Linked DNA regions of Homo sapiens: region 2 is linked to region 1. A link means that fine-mapping ties the variant in region 1 to the expression of a gene that starts in the linked region. Tissue or cell type: esophagus muscle. Region 1 holds a variant in brackets; the other region holds the start of a gene. All regions are shown on one strand. Distances are from middle to middle.

Evidence for each region. PIP is the estimated chance that this variant, and not a neighbour inherited with it, causes the effect.
Region 2: it holds the start of KLHL35, and the variant in region 1 is fine-mapped to the expression of KLHL35 in esophagus muscle (GTEx, PIP above 0.99).

Annotation. Positions count from the first base shown.
Region 1 is chr11:76,165,202-76,173,295 of GRCh38, reverse strand. No RefSeq gene overlaps it. Among named protein-coding and RNA genes, the nearest start is that of WNT11, 37 kb to the left of the region's middle. RefSeq lists an enhancer at 7,828-8,094. The variant C/T (reference allele first, on the strand shown) is at 5,035.
Region 2 is chr11:75,429,792-75,437,885 of GRCh38, reverse strand. KLHL35 (kelch like family member 35) reads left to right here and starts at 4,683. Exons shown (of 7, transcript NM_001039548.3): 1 at 4,683-4,843; 2 at 7,256-8,094. The coding sequence starts at 7,257. It overlaps GDPD5 (glycerophosphodiester phosphodiesterase domain containing 5), which reads left to right. Exons shown (of 17, transcript NM_030792.8): 16 at 838-950; 17 at 2,231-3,246. The coding sequence ends at 2,379. RefSeq lists an enhancer at 5,159-6,045 and silencers at 7,334-7,573, 7,654-7,703.

The DNA.
Region 1 (8,094 bases):
CAAGTGGTGGCCAATATTAAGGAAAAACTTAATAAAAACAGCCTTAACAGGGTAGAGAGTACTGGTCGGAAGGATTCTAGTCTATTTCAGTGGTCCAGGAAGACCTCGCAATGCAGATGGCGGCTCTTGTAAACCCCAGAGCCATGGGGGCCGGAGATGATGTCAGTGAGGGACGAGGGTCAGACTGAGGGAGCGTGGGAGCCACTGCAGGTTTGGAGCAGGGGTGCAACCTGTTTTGTGCCAGGCTCTGCGCTAGGGGCTTGACGGCCAACTTCTCACTTGATCCTTCTGGCAAGTCTGTGATTTGGGGCTGGCTTTCAGACCCCGATTTCAGAGGCAGAAGAGGCCCAGAGAAGGAAGGAGCCTGCTGGAGGTCATGAAGCAGCTCGGCCCTTTCCCTCTCTCCCGATCTGTGACAGGTTGGCAGCTGGCAAGGCTTATTTTCCTCAGCCTCTTCTCTCAGCATCTGCCCATAAATCACTCTGACACACAACGAGGGGGGCACGGACGGATTCCACATCACCTCCGTGGGTGAGCGGTTCCCAGGCCCTGCACTCCGGTGAGCCTGTGGTTCTTGGCTCTGGATGCTGGCTGCCCAGCCCAGGGCTCCAAATGCCGGGCTCAGACACCAGGGGAGTCGTGCTTTCCCTGGGCCAAGAAGGGGTTCAGGAGAAAGGGGAGGACCCCCCACCCCCGCCGCCACCCAGGCCAGAGGATCTGGCTACCAGATGAAGGGTTGGGAGAACACAAATCGGCTGCTCAAAGATCTGGGCGAGACCTGGGTCTGACCACGGGTGGGTACAGAGGGCATGCTGTGGCCAGAGGCTCCAGGGGAGAGAGGAGGCCCTCCCTTACTCTGAAGGCTCTGGTGATGCCAGAAGCATCTGGGATTGTTTTGGAGCTGGCACGGGAGCAGAGGCAGGCACAAGACAGGGGTGCTTGAGAGGGAAGATCCCCTTCAACCCCGACTGCCTCCCACCCAACCACCCCGACCGGTAGGGCGCCAGCACAGGCACCACCAAATGCTTTCACCGGGAAGCGGGCTGGGGGCCTTTTGGCCTCGTGACTTCGCAGGGCCCCCTGGAGAAATGGCTGTTCTCTGGACAAACCTCAGGGATTTGGGGAGCACCTGTCCTGTGTGGGGCTCTGAGCGGTGTGGGGCAGCGTCACGACATGGCACCCTGGCCTCGAGGAGCTGCTGGTCTGGAGTGCAACCCACTTCTCACCCTGGCATTCGAGGTCTGGCCCCTCTCCTCCTCTTCCTCTTCCTCCTCCCACTGCCACCCCCCACGCCTTGTTTTCCACACCTGCCTTGGGCATGGAAGCCACTCCCTTCGCTTAGGCCGACTCCTCTTCAGAATGGATTGAATCCCCTGTCCTGGCTTGTCTGTGGGCACCCACCCACATCATACCTCATTTCCAGGTCATGCCACACCATGGGAGGCAGTGCAGGATGGGGATTGGGGGTAGGGAGGAATCATGGCTTTGGGGTCAGAGGGGCCTACTGACCATCTGGCCCTGCCACCTACCAGATGACTTCCTGGGTATGTCTCTGTCTCGAAGCTTCTCTGAGTCAAGACTGAGACGGGGATACTGGTTGCCACATCTTGTGCCTCCATTTAGGGTGATTATATGAGAATGCCTGTGAGGGTTCAGCACAGGACCTGGCACCACTGGCGGTCAGCGCAGTGTCAGTGGGTCCAGCCCAAGTGTGCAGGCCCTGACAACCACCCCCTGCAGAACCTCCCGCCTGCCATCCCCACTGCCAGGGTGGGACGCCTGAGGAGGGGCCCTCCCTGGGCACTGGGAGGAGTCGGGGTAGCCCACACACCTCTTTTCTGTTCAAGACCAGGGTGGATGGCAGCTCAGAGCCAGGGCTGCTCAGGGGAGGGGTGAGGCGGTACCGGGATGAGGGATGCCAGGCGGCTGGTCAGGACTCAGGAAGCTGAGGCCAAGAGCTCCCTGCTCCATCGGGCCCTTCCAGGGCTCTAGCATTCAGGGACGGTGGGATGATGTCTGCCCACCTCTTATAACCCACCTCAGTCCTTTCCCTCCCAGAGCTGAGGACAATGAGACCGACCCCCAACATTCACCTGTTCCCCACGCCCTCTCCTGTCCTGACTGGGTCCCTCAGCTTTTTTCTGTAGCTTGTTTCTTCACACCCCCTGGCCTCTCAGCAAGGGGCATGGCAGGTTGCAACCCGGGTACCCCTCACCTGCAGAGCTGCCCTGTGGCCTCTCTGGGGCTGCAGAGAGGGCTGGCCCAAGCCAGCCTCACTGTGTGGATTTGGACAAAGTGCAGCCCCTCTCTGGGCCTCATTTTCCCTTTGGCCAGTAGAAGGGCCGGCCTCACAGGGCTGTGGAGTCCATCCACGGTGACTGAGGCTGGAGCGGGATGAAGCCCTCAGCCACTCCTTGCTCAGTCAGAGCTATTGGTGCACTGGGAGTGCTGGCAGTGAGCAGAGGGGCCTTGGGGGACCAGTGAGGATGGGGCTGGCAAGTGGCCAGCCTCACCACAGGCCACAGGGCCCCCCCTGAATGGACCCCCCGGAGGCTGCTTGTCAAGGCCTCTTGCCTAATTACCAAATCGTTCCCAGATCCCCTCCTGCAGCCTGACCTCCTCCCAGCTGGAAAACACCAAGCCCTGCCCTGAGGTGTGGATGCTAGTTTGCAGGGCAGCAGGGTCCTGCCCAGAGCCTCTCTCACTCCCATATTCTTGGGAGGCCAAAGAGCACTCCAGCCCCACCTGCCACCCAGGCCCAGCAGAATCCTCCCCTGAGTCCTGTGTGGGGCAACTGCTGGCTGAGGAGTCAGCCCTGGCCGGGTGCGGTGGCTCACGCCTGTAATCCCAGCACTTTGGGAGGCCGAGGTGGGCAGATCACGAGGTCAGGAGATCGAGACCATCCTGGCTAACACGGTGAAACCCTGTCTCTACTAAAAAAATACAAAAAATTAGCCGGGTGTGTTGACGGGCGCCTGTAGTCCCAGCTACTCGGGAGGCTGAGGCAGGAGAATGGTGTGAACCCGGGAGGCAGAGCTTGCAGTGAGCCGAGATGGCGCCACTGCACTCCAGCCTGGGCGACAGAGCAAGACTCCATCTCAAAAATAAAATAAAATAAAATAAAAAGTAAAATAATGTAAAGTAAAATAAAGTAAAATAAAAAGTCAGCCCTGAGGGAGTGACCTTGGCTAGGTCCCCCTGGTTTCTTCCTCTGTGGAAGGGGGAATTCATCCTTGACCTCACAGGGCCATTGAGATCGCTTGGGCCGACTCTGGGGGCCGACTCTGGGGGAGCCAGTGACCCCTCTCCCTGCACCTCCAACCAGACTCTGGGAGGTGGAGCAAGGCCTCACCCCCTCCACCCAACCTTGACACCAGGCTCTCTTTGCTCTCAGAAAATGCCCTGCATGGCTGCATCCTCCTGAGACACTCGTTGCCTGAGGCAGACTCACTCGCTGCCTCGGTGTCTGGCACGGGCGGAGGTTGGGGCGGAGAAGGCACATTCACGCCCCCACAGCCCCAGGGCCCTGAGCTGCAGCGGAGGCTCTGCTCAGAAGGGCACTACTCAGGGCCCGTGAGGGGCTGGGCGCGATGGGCCAGGGACTTCCCAGGGTCCCACTGTGAGTCAGCAGACCCAGCACCTTCCCCTGACCCCACTGGGTGCTGCCCTCACTTCCCAATGCACTCTCAGACACGTATGTGCACAACACGCACACACACGAACACTCATGCCTGCACACAAGCAGGATCCAGCAGGGTGACGGGAGCCCACATCTGCCCACCAGGTGCTCCCCAGCTGTGAATCAATGCTTGGAAGGAGCTGCTGGTGCGGCACCCCCACAACCTTGGGGAGATGAGGGCAGTCAAAGGTCACCTGAGATTCCCACAGCCCTTGATGATGCCCACACTGCGAACTGGGAGCTTGTCAGCCTCTCAGCTGCCCTCTCTCATTTCCAGATGGAGAAATAGGACTCGGAGATGGGCAGAGACTTCGTGGGGGCCACACATCAGTGGCAGGTGGGGTTGAACTTCCTGCTCTGCCCTTGTGGCCTGAGCTGGGAACCTCCCCCCTCTCCAGCCCAGCCCCAGAGGTCCACCTCACCCCATTCCTCCCTTGTTGCCTGCCTGGAAGGAAGAGGACCCAGGGGCCCTCTGTGGTGGCCTCCAGACTCTGATTGGCCTGGGAGGCACACAGCTCTTGGCTCTGTGGGAGAAAAGGTGTTCCTCCAGTCACAGCAGTCCCACAAGGGCAGGCGCTGACCCAAGTGGGAAGAAGTGCGCTTCCGATCCCTGGGAGTGTCCAAGCAAGGGCTGGAGGCTACTGCTGAGTGGGGTGGGTGGTTTCAGTGACCAGCAAGAGTCCTTCCAGGCACAGAGTTTCCAAGATTCTGAGTGTTAGTGATCTCCTGAGTTTGGATTAAATGCCACTCCCTCCCCAGACTCCTTCTAGCCCTGACTCCAGGATTTTTTGAGCCTCTTGGCCAAGCCCTGCAGCAAGTGAACATACAGATCAGAACCTCAATCCCTGCTCACCAACAGCAGGCAGTGACTTTGCATCTCCAAGCCTCAGTGGCTCCCTCTGTAAAATGGGGACCATCACAGTGGCACCTGCTTCACAAGTAATGGTGGGGATAAAGTGAGGGGCCACACGTGAAAGCCATGTGTGAACTAGATCAGGAACTCATAAACTTGACTCTGGCCTGGACGGCTCTACAGGACGAGACGGTGGGGGCAGAGACAATGTGGCTGGGGGAGATAAAGGCACTGAGTGGACATAAGGGCTGCGTGTGGGCAAATGAGCCATGGGAGCCAGGGCTGGGGGCTTGAATGCCGGGCAGAAGCCCCAGGACCTGCGTGAGTGGACACGTGTTTCCCAACGGGATGCCAGGAGGGCACATCCATCACTGCTGGGGCCCTGCCAGCCCAGGCTCCAGCTACTGGAAGTGGCGGAAGATCAAAGGGCCTTGAGGGTGGCCAGGGGCGGTGGCTCACGCCTGTAATCCCAGCACTTTGGGAGGCCGAGGCGGGCGGATCA[C/T]GAGGTCAGGAGTTTGAGACCAGCCTGGCCAACATGGTGAAACCCCGTCTCTACTAAAAATACAAAAATTAGCTGGGCGTGGTAGCGGGTGCCTGTAATCCCAGCTACTGGGGAGGCTGAGGCAGGAGAATCACTTGAACCTAGGAGGCGGAGGCTGCAGTGAGCCAAAAATCATGCCATTGCACTCCAGCCTGGTCTCTCCATCTGTAAAATGGGCGGGCTGGACCCACTGCTCTTCAAGGGGGCCTTACAGCCCTGGGGTGGGAGGGGAGGGCAGGGCAAGGGTTCCAGAAGGGAGGCCTTCAGCTCAGGTTTAACAAGCTGTCTGTTTGGTTGGAACTGATCAAAACCAGACTGGTGCTGAGCCGTGTCTCTGCTTCGCATGGAGTGAAGCTGCCAAGAATTCATCCCTCACTGTTTCCAGTAAATAACTGGGCTCCCACGGGGATCCCAGGGCGGGCTGGACGTCTCACCTCCTCTCTTCACAGTGAACTTGACCGGGGGGCCGGAAGGAAGGAGACCCCCGGCCAGGCCTCCAGCTGTGCTCTCACCGCATCAGCCCGTGGCAGATGGGCGTTGGCTCAGTGGGCCGCCCACCTGTCCCGTGGTCACAGTGGTGAGGGCTGCCAGCTGGACCCCACAGGGCCCACATGCCTGGGAGTCTGGCCCTGTTATCTCCTTCATTCATGCAGTCAACAAACCTTCGAAGAACTGTAATGGAGGCAGCCGCCCTCCTCAGGCTCCTCGACGCCTCTCAGGGGTCCTGGAGTGTCAGCACCTCTTCCTTAATTGTTCTTCCTGTTCATAAAAGAGAAGAGGCAGCACTTTGGGAGGCCGAGGCGGGCAGATCACCTGAGTTCGGGAGTTTGAGACCAGCCTGACCAACATGGAGAAACCCTGTCTCTACTAAAAATACAAAATTAGCCGGGCGTGGCAGCACTTGCCTGTAATCCCAGCTACTCGGGAGGCTGAGGCAGGAGTATCTCTTGAACGTGGGAGGTGGAGGTTGCAGTGAGCGAGATTGCACCATTCCACTACAGCCTGGGCAACAAAAGCAAAACTCCGTCTCAAAAAAAAGAAAGAAAAAGAAAGAAAGGAGGAAGCGCAGAACCAGGTTTTGACTAGTGAGGCTGTGTTAGCAGCGCGGTGACATCTTCCTTCAGTTCCATGGGTTGCCCGTGACTCTGTGTATGCTGACCCTATGGGAGGTGCCCGCAAAGCCAAGGGGCTGTGCCTAGCAGAGGTGAGGGCTGGGCTGAAAGACCCCTGCACGGCATGCACATACACACAACTTTGTCAGGACCTGCCTAAAACAAAAAATAGAGAGATTTCGACTCAATAGGGTGGGCTGGGTCTGGGAGTCTGCATTTTAGCAAGGGTTCCAGGTCAGGTAAGGTGGCTCACACCTGTAATCCCACGAGATAGGAGGATTGTTTGAGCCCTGGAGTTCCAGGCCAGCCTGGGCAATAGAGTGAGACCCAGATCCTATCTCTATAAAACATAAATTTAAAAAACACAAGGGTTCCAGGTGATTCTCCCTCCCTGCCTGTTGGGGAACTGAGATGATCCACCTGATCTTGGTAGGATGCTCGCCCTGGTCTCTAGGGTTACAACCTTGGAGTTCTCTGGGCCTCTGAGTCACCCTTTTTGCTTCAAAACAAAACCCCTAAAAGCCACAGAAAATGTCAAGATGTGGTTGGCAATAGGCATGCATCAGCTGCCCTCTCACGCTAAGGACTGAGGGACTGGGTTCCATCCCCCAGAGGAGAGCTTGCATTTGAAAGGGCACTGACCAGCGCGAGGAGCCTAACTGGCTGAGCTGTCGGAAGACAGGGCTGGCCTCCTGCAGGTACCCTCCTGCGTGAGTGTAAGGGACACTAGCAGCCCTTGTGTGCTGCAGGTCTGGGGGCTCTATCCTGCTGCCAATCTGCCTGCAGTGATTCTCTATAGGTGGGGAGGCCAGGATGTTCCCCCCAACACGGGGGCACAGCCAAGTCCCCTTGCTCTCATTCACATTTTGTCACAGGATTGAATTCGCTTTGATTTTCAAATATTAAGAGAATATTAAAAGATGGCATGAGGCCAGGAGTGGTGCCCACGCCTGCAATCCCAGCACTTTCAGAGGCTGAGGCAGGTGGATTGCCTGAGCTCAGGACTTAGAGACCAGCCTGGGCAACATGGAGAAACCCTATCTCTACTAAAAATATAAAAATTACCCGGGCATGGTGGCACCTGCCTGTGTTCCCAGCTACTCAGGAGGCTGAGGCACAAGAATCGCTTGAATTCAAGAGGCAGAGGTTGCAGTGAGCCAAGACGGTGCCACTGCACTCCAGCCCTACTCCATCTCAAAATAAAATAAAATAATAAAATAAAATGAGGCATGAAATTTGTATGGCCACCGAAAGGGAGCATGGATTTTTAGAGTTGTGGAAGCCTTGTGAGGGTAGTGGCTGCCAGCCTCCCCTGCCCGCCAGTCCTCATTCTGGGCTGCACACTTGAGTTTGGAGTTCGGGTTCTGAGATACTGGTTTTGCTTCTGAGCTCTAGTGGGCTCAAACCAAGGATGAAGAGGTCCCAGACAGCCCTCGGGGACCCTGACAACATTCTCTGAATACATGGATGAACAAGAGCAGCAGAAGGATGAAGAGAGAGGGCGGGCAAGCGTGGAGGGAGAACCCATCTCCACTCCCCGGGCCTGTCTTTGGCAGCAGCTCCACTTCCCACGACCCTATGCATGTGTCCTCCGTGTGCGTGTGTCCCCACTGTGCGTGCATCCCCCCGTGCGTGTGTCCTCCCTGTGCGTGCGTCCTCCCAAGCATGTCTCTCCCCATGCGTACGTCCCCCCGTGCATGCATCCCCCCCGTGCACATGTCCTCCTTGTGCGTGCGTCCCCCTTGTGCATGTGTCCCACCTTGCATGCGTCCTCCCTGTGCCTGCATCTCCCCTGTGTGTATGTCCCCGCTGTGCCTACGTCCCCCCCGTGCCTATGTCCCCCCCGTGCCTGTGTCCCCCCCGTGCCTATGTCTCCCCATGCGTGCGGCCCCCCGTGCGTGAGTCAACC
Region 2 (8,094 bases), 740 kb after region 1:
CTAGATCCCAGGAAAGGTCTAAGTTCAGAGGCCAGGGACTGGGGCTAGTTCAGAGGAATGACAATAGTGAAGACAGTGGCCTGGGCTGGGCACAGAAACCTGAGTCCTTTCCACTTAGTGCCTGGTCCCTTCATGCCCTGTGCATGCTCCACCTCCCAGCCCACTCTTGAGTAATTTTACCCCCACCTTGCACCTGTCTCAGCCATCAGAGGGATTCATGCTCTGACCTCCCTCCGCATTAGGACTGCCAGGACAGAGCAGCAGTTGGCCCCACTCCAAGTCACTCTAACCCCCTTGCCTTGGGAACCTGTGCAGACCAGCTCTGGGCAAAGCCCCCTACCACCTGGCCCCACCCCCCTGCTTTCCTTCCCTCCCTCTCAAGGGGTCTCCCCAATGGCTTCACTTAGTCTGGTCATGATGGTGGAGCTATAAGAGACATCAGCTGGGACTCCCTGAGATTGGTGTGTGCCCCAGCTTAGGTCAACAGAGTCGTGCCTACTAAGCTCCTCCTGCTCCCAAATCTGTCCCATTCAAAGAGAGCCAGGTGCATTACTGGGGACACCTGAGACAGAACTAACCAACCCTAGTCCTGGGCCAGGGCTGCTGACTGGCGGCTCTGGAGGTAAGAGGGAGGCCAGGGAGCCCTGGCCGAGAGTCAGTAGGCTCTGATTCAAGCCCCAACTCTGCCCTCTCTGGGCCTATTTCCCCATTGTACAGTGGGACAAGAGTCCTGCTGGTCTCTTGGGCCACATCCAGAGAGGCTCTGGAAGTAGGCAGGGTCTCTGCTCCAAGGGAGGGCTGAGGAGAGACCTGATGCCCACGGGGCCATCTCTGCAGGTGGCGCCTGGGTGGCATACGGAGCTACAACCCTGAGCAGATCATGCTGAGTGCTGCGGTGCGCCGGACCAGCCGGGACGTCAGCATCATGAAGGAGAAGCTTATTTTCTCAGGTACACAGCCCTGCAGACAGGTGGAGGCAGGCCCTGGGCCCAGCTTTCTGCACCCCCACATGCAAACAGATGTGTATGCACACACATTCACATGTGGCACATATGGGTAGGGACAAGGGCACAGACGTACATAAACCCACCGGGATTATACCCACAGACATACAAAGGCATAAGTACACGTGTGAAAACACACACCCCCACACACACAGTCATCCACCCTGTCATCCACCATGGCTTGGTGTCAGTGCCATGGTTGGTGGGCAGGGGTGGGGTAGGGAGAGGAGTCTGTTTTGAAGGCCCATCCCCCTTTGCCTGGTTCGTACTTGGATCCTACAATGTTGGCCTCACCCTTGCTCTTTGCCAGTCCCTGTCAACATTCCCAGTCTGATGGAAGCAGCAGCTACGTATATAAACAGTGGCAGGGAAAGTCGAGTTCCTGCGATGGGAGTGCCGGGCGGGGGGCGGGAGGACGTGGTCAGAGCTGCCTGGGCAGTGAGGAAGGCTTTGGGCGCCTGATACACTGAGATGGGGAGGATGCAGAGGAGGTGCTTTGGTAATGGCTTCAAGATGAGGGCCGAGTGAGCTGAGGGAAGGAAGGGCATTCCAGGTGGGCACGGCATGTGTGCAGAGGTGGCAAGGGAGCACCGCTTGCCTGGGCACCAAGAATGAAGTGTCCCTCTATATGGCCGAACTCCACTCAGCAGAGCTTTCTTGAGCCTCTGCTCTGTGTCCAGCACTCTACCAGGCCCTGGGGACATAGATGCCCAGAACCCACCCTGGTCCTTGAGGTATTTTGGGGGCCCAGGCAGCAACCATACAGAATATGGCCAGGGCAGAAGGAAGCAGGGTCTGGAGTTGCCATGAGGAGGCCCTAACTCGGCCCAGGGCTCCGATGAGGTTCCCAGGAGGCTGAGTGACAGATGAGAAGACTTGAGCCAGACTGTAGGAAAAGGAGGTGTTGTTGGGGCAGTCACTCCTAAGAGAGGGGCTGACACATGCAAAGGCCCTGAGGAGAGTGGACACATGGGTGCCAAGCTCAGGGGCACAGGTGGTTTTCTGTGGCTGCAGAGTCCCAGGGGACAGCAGATGAAGGCGAAGCTAGAGTGCTCAGCAGACACCAAAGGGGCCTTGAGTGCCAGGCTCAATGTCGACCTGAGCCCAGTGGTTTCATCAGCCTCCAAGTGCCCCGCTGGGTGGTGCAGCCTTCCTGCCCCATCTGTCACCCATCCTCACGACTGCCTCCTCCCCGACTCACATTCTGTCTCCCTCTGGCCCAGCAGAGATCAGCGATGGTGTAGAGGTCTCCGATGTGCTCTCCGTATGTTCAGACAACAGTTATGACACATATGCCAACAGCACCGCCACCCCTGTGGGCCCCCGAGGGGGTGGCAGCCACACCAAGACCCTCATAGAGCGGAGTGGGCGTTAGCTGAAGACATGTCTGTCCCACCTGTACCTGACACAGAAGCTGGGGAGCCTAGGAGAGCTGGTGGAAGTGTGTCTGAACTCGGAGTGCTCTGGGAGCGGGCTCCACAGCCTCCTTGTGGGCTCCAGCCCCTTGTCAGCCGCAGCCTCTCTTGAGGGGGACTCCCTGTCTCCTGAGGCCCAGCTGGGCCAGGACTCCATCCTTTCAGATGCCCCTGCAGGCCTGGGGCTCCTTCTGGGAAGTATGGGGCCTAGGGCTTGGTCCCCCTCTTCTGAGGCCCTCTCCTGTATCCCGACCTGGAAGCTTTGATGGGTCATGGGCCATGCCATACCCCCTGTGGCAATGGAGTGTGTGGATGCTCACCTGTGCCATCTGTCCTCCTGTCTGTGCCAGGAGGCACCTGAGTTCTCTGCTGTTATCCTGCCCCAAGGGCCTGGGCCGAGCCTCTACCTGAAGCAACTCTGCTCTTCCTGTCAGTCTCAAAGCACAAGGAGGTTCAGCCCAGGAGGAAGCCAGCTGCAATGTGGAGACACGTCCTCCTCCCCAACCCACCTCATGCCACCGCCAACCCCCTGCCCCAGGAGCGGGCCTGAGCCACGTCCTCTAGGAGCAGCTGGAGATGGCCAAAAGAGTGAGCTCAGGACTACTGGATCCCATGCCCAGGTGTCCAGCAGACCTCAAGGCAGAAGGGTCACCTAACCCAGGAGTCCACAGACTGATGTGACCTCAGGTTCCCACATCAGTGGCCACAGGGCAGGGCCCACCTGGTAGAAGTGTTCTGGATATGGCCAGGGTGGGTGTGTGGCTAAGTGGGCCTGAACAGAGGGAACCTAGGGCCCTTGGCCAATGTGATTAAAGCTGCCATCTTGATGTGTGTTGTCTCTGAATTGCCAGCAGGAGGGTGGGGACAAGTGCGCTGGGTCTAGGTTTCAGTTCTGACCCTATAATCTGAGGAGGAACCATTCTCAGGAATGAATGGGAAAGTGGCAGAATGGTGCCTCCCCTTCCCTGGGTCCGCCATGGTGCCAGTGGCTGGGAGCCGGTATCCTCATATGGTGGATGGGGAGACAGTCTTGGAGAGGTAAAGTGACCTCCAAAAGCCACACAGCTTAGAACAGGCCAAGCCAGAATCCCATCCAGACTCTGGCCCCAGCGCATATGTGTGCCTCCCATAAGCTAGGAATGACACGCAGAGGGGGAGGGCTCCTGGGTCCAATGTAGGGCTGGGAGTGGGACTGGCAGGTGCCCTCACAGCCACATGAAGGCATTCTGAACCTCCCGGCTATGTTGGGACAAGCCCTCAGCACAGGGAGGCCTCTTCCCCATGCCAGGAGTTTGGCTTTGACTTCTCCGAGCTTTGGACCTGCCTGAGGAGGGCCCATGCCCATGCCCAGGACTGGGGGCACCTGAGCTGAAAGCCAAAGTACAGCCCTGGGACCACAGGTGTCCTTTCCTTCCAGTCCTTGGGACCTCTGCTGTCTGTGGGCAGGAGTCAGTGGTGGTGTCAGAGCAGGCCTGTAACTCCCCTCTTTGTCCTGAGAGTCTGCCTGGTCATGGGTGTGACCTGAGGGAAAAGGGGGAAGCTGAGCCCCAGCTCCAGCCTGCATCAAATTAACTCCATGCTTCCTGGGAGCCAAGGGACGTGTCTCTTCCAAACAGGGATCTTCTGGATAGAATTCTTGGGGTCTAGGAGATTCTGGCACCTTATAGGTAAAAAAGAAAAGAGCCCTCTGCAAATGTTGGAAGCTCCACTGGGCCCCCACAGTAACCTCGAGGACCGGCCCTCCTGCCCCTGCTACTGAATGTCTGGCAAGTGCTCTGCTTCCTGGGGCAGAGGTCAGCTCCCGCCTCTCCCTGAGCTCAAGGGAATGAGACTCAGAGCCACTGTGCCCCCCGCCCCACATGCTTAGTCACATTGGCATCTACATGGTCACACAGCCACATGTCCACACGCAGCCCAATGCTACACAGTCACTTCATTCCATGTACTTCCACAATCACGCATAGTCACCCTGAAACCTACATGCCTACAACTGCATGATGACACCCCTCCCACACCCCAACTCCAGCACCACACACCTTCGAACCCATCGTCATTCCGGGACAAGGCCAGCACCAGGTCACCCCCAAACCCAGGCATACCAAATCCTGGAGTTCCACACACAGTCAATCCCACTCTTATGCCCCCCCTTTCTTTCCCTCCCTCCCAGGGCTAGTCCAAGAGTGGAACAAAAGCCCAGCATCCCCCTCCCTGCTCGCTTCTCCCTTCCCCTCCCTTCCCCTCCCTCCTGGCGTCCAGCCCCTTTGTCCTCCCGCAGCTGAGCCCGAGCGAACAGCAAACGGGAGTCTGGGCAGAGCAGCATGAACACTGGAGCTTGGGCTGCCAGGGGTGCGGGCGGCAGGCACAAACGGGAGTGATACCTGTGAGAGCAGCAGCTGCGGAGCACTTGGGAGAGGGTATGGCCAGGTAAGTGCCAGGTGCATGGGGCAAGGCTTAGGCTGCAGGGCTGACCCGGCTGCGTGGTGTCCGCAAGTCTGAGATGGGGAGGATGCGGAGGAGGTGCTTGGGTAATGGCTTCAAGTGGATGTGGGTGTGTAAAAGAGTGATGGTGGCATGTTCGAGTCAGCTTCTATAGGCTGGGCCCTTCAATCTGCATCATGACCCCTGGCTTGAAGTGCCTAGACTCAGCCGAGAAGGGAGGATACCCATTGAGCCCTACCTGGGAATTTTTACCTTCTGTGTTCCAACTGGGTGTCGTTTGACCCCCAGACTGGGGATCCCCAGAGTGAATGCTGGATCTGATGTCACTGTGTGTCCAGAGTGCCCAGCGCAGTAGACAGTAAAATGAAAAAGTACTGACACACTTCCTAGGAGGGGACTCTTTCTCCCCCAGGGAGCTGCTTGTGCTGTGGGGCACCTTTGCAAGAAGTCCATCCTTATGCTGATGAGACCTGCCCTCTTGAGTCTCAACTCAGAGCATGGTTGTGCTTTCTGAGCCAGTGGAGGACAGACTGGTTGCAGCGTGCTGTGATGACCGGTCTCACTTCCTTCCACCGGTCCTGGCTGCTCCTTGGGACACACCCCCACCCTGGCAAGTGTGGCATGCAAACCCTGGAGCCAGGTGGATTCAGGATCCAGTCGCTCTACTTGGGCAAAAGTAGTTAACTTTCTTGCCCACCAGGGAGCTCATCTCTCATGATGCTGACCAGGGGATCCGCTGCCCTGGATGACCAGGGCATGAAAGCCAGGCTGACACTAGGCGGGATCTGACCTCCAGAGGCAGCAGAGCAGCTGGGAGCAGGAGGATGGAAGGAGAGGCAGGGCGCAGAGGGTGGACCTGAGCCCCCTAGAGTAAGCTGATGGAAAGGAGGGAGCTCCCTGTCCCTGGAGGTGTGCAAGCAGAGGTTTTGTGTTCATAATGGCCAAATCATAACCAGCATGGCCCAGCCCCTCAGTCTGCAGAGCGCCTTCACAAACACCCCTCTGCTGAGCCTCGCCGCAAACTTCTGAAGGGCGGGTGTCCTGTGTGTGCTTGTTTCCCTTATGACAAACTAAAGGGGCAGGTGTGGGCTAAAGAAACTTCTCAGCTTGTGAGGATGAAATTAAATTATGTCTATAAAAGCAACTGGCACACACAGTGTCCTCCCTTCCTCTTGAGTAAAAGCAATATAGGGAAACACCCATGTAGCTCGTACTGTGTACTAGCACTTTTCATACAGCCCATGTAATAGTCATGAAGCCACAGCCCTGTGAGGTAGGGATGATGATCCCATTTCAGATGAGATAACTGAGGCCAGGGCGGGCAGGTGAGAGGAGTGACTTGCCCCGGCCACACCGTAAGCCTGTGGCAGGCACTGGGTTAGAATCCCCATTTGTCCCTAGAGTTCTTTCCACTTTCTGACGGTGCTACCTGGAGAACACCAAGAGAACTCACTAGAGAGAGGGCCAGCTTCCCTCAGCCTGGGCTCTAACCTTTCAGAATTCGCCCATCCTTCTCAGCTGGAAGGTTCCCCTCAGGGACGCCCTCCCTGACTCCCCTCCACCTGGGTCCAGCGGCCCTTCTATGAACTCCCCTAACACCCGGTGCCTCCCCATGGCACCCCCGCCAGGCTGGGAGCTCCGGGCACACCGTAACTATGGTTGTCTTGCTCACTGCCTGGCACAGAAAGGGCTCCCAATAAATACTTGTCGAATTCGTTTGCGCGAAAGCTGTGTGTATGATGCTGTCTGTCAGGGGAGTGCTCAGGGTGTGGTCAGTGTCCAGCACCTACCGGAGATCGGCAGGAGACAGGCTGGATTGAGCAGAGGGCGGTGGAGTTATTGTACCCTCTCTCCCCTGCACATGCACACACTGGGTCTCTGTGGGGCAGCCTGAGTCCCTTGACCCAGGGCTTCAGCTCCTGTCACGGGACCCTCCTTACACAGATATATTTCCAGGTTCCAGTAACTTCCCTGCTCTCCCGCTACAGACCCCGGGGCGGCCAAGGCGCCCTGCTGTTAGTATCCTGGGACACAGCCCTACTCCTACTGGAGTCCCTAACGCCTACTCCGCTGTTGAAAATAGTTCCTTTATTAGACCCTCCTCCGATTACCCTGTTTGAGAGCGTGCCATCTGTTACCTGCAGATATCGATAGGAAAACGCTTAGCAAGTTTGAAGAACCGAAAAGGGCACTGTGTCTGAGTGGGTAGGCAGGGCAGAATGTCGCGCTGGTGAGGCGGGGCTGGGGCACTGTAGCCGTAAGGAACCTGGATGCTGAACGGAGGGGAGAGTCGCTGAACAAATGGTCAAGAGAGGAAATAAACGGATGAGGGCTGTCGCCTCTCCCGGGCGCAGCCAGGTGGCTTCCCCGACGCTGTTTGTGTTCTCTCCCCGGCAGGATGCGGCAAGGCCATGCGCCGGAGGAGTCGGAGCCGGGCTGCGAAGCGCCGTGCGCGGGTCCGTGCCACGCGCAGCGCGTGCTGCAGGCCCTGAACGCCTACCGGCGGAGCGGCACCCTCACCGACGTGGTGCTGCGCGCCGGCGGGCGCGACTTTCCGTGCCACCGCGCGGCGCTCAGCGCGGGCAGCGCCTACTTCCGCAGCTTGTTCGCGGCCGGGCGGCCCGAGCGCGGCCCGGCCGTGGTGCCAGTGGTGCCAGTAGCTCCCGAGGCGCCAGGCACGAGCCCGGCCGGGGCGGCGGCGGCGCTGGCCGTGGTGCTCGACTACGTGTACGGAGCGGGCGTGCGGCTGCGCGCGGAGGACGAGGCGGCGGCCGTGCTGGCGCTGGCGGAGCGGCTGGGCGTGGCGGGCCTGCGCGAGGCCTGCGTGCGCTTTCTCGAGGGCCGCCTGCGCGCCGCCAACAGCCTAGCGCTGCGCCGCGTGGCCGCCGCCTTCTCGCTGGCCCCGCTGGCCGAGCGCTGCGGCCGCGTCCTGCGTCAGGCCTTCGCCGAGGTGGCGCGCCACGCCGACTTCCTGGAGCTGGCGCCTGACGAGGTGGTGGCGCTGCTGGCGGACCCCGCGCTGGGCGTGGCGCGCGAGGAGGCCGTGTTTGAAGCGGCCATGCGCTGGGTGCGCCACGACGCGCCGGCCCGCCGCGGCCAGCTGCGACGCCTGCTGGAGCACGTGCGCCTGCCGCTACTGGCGCCCGCTTACTTCCTGGAGAAGGTGGAGGCGGACGAGCTGCTGCAGGCCTGCGGCGAGTGCCGCCCGCTGCTGCTCGAGGCTCGCGCCTGCTTCA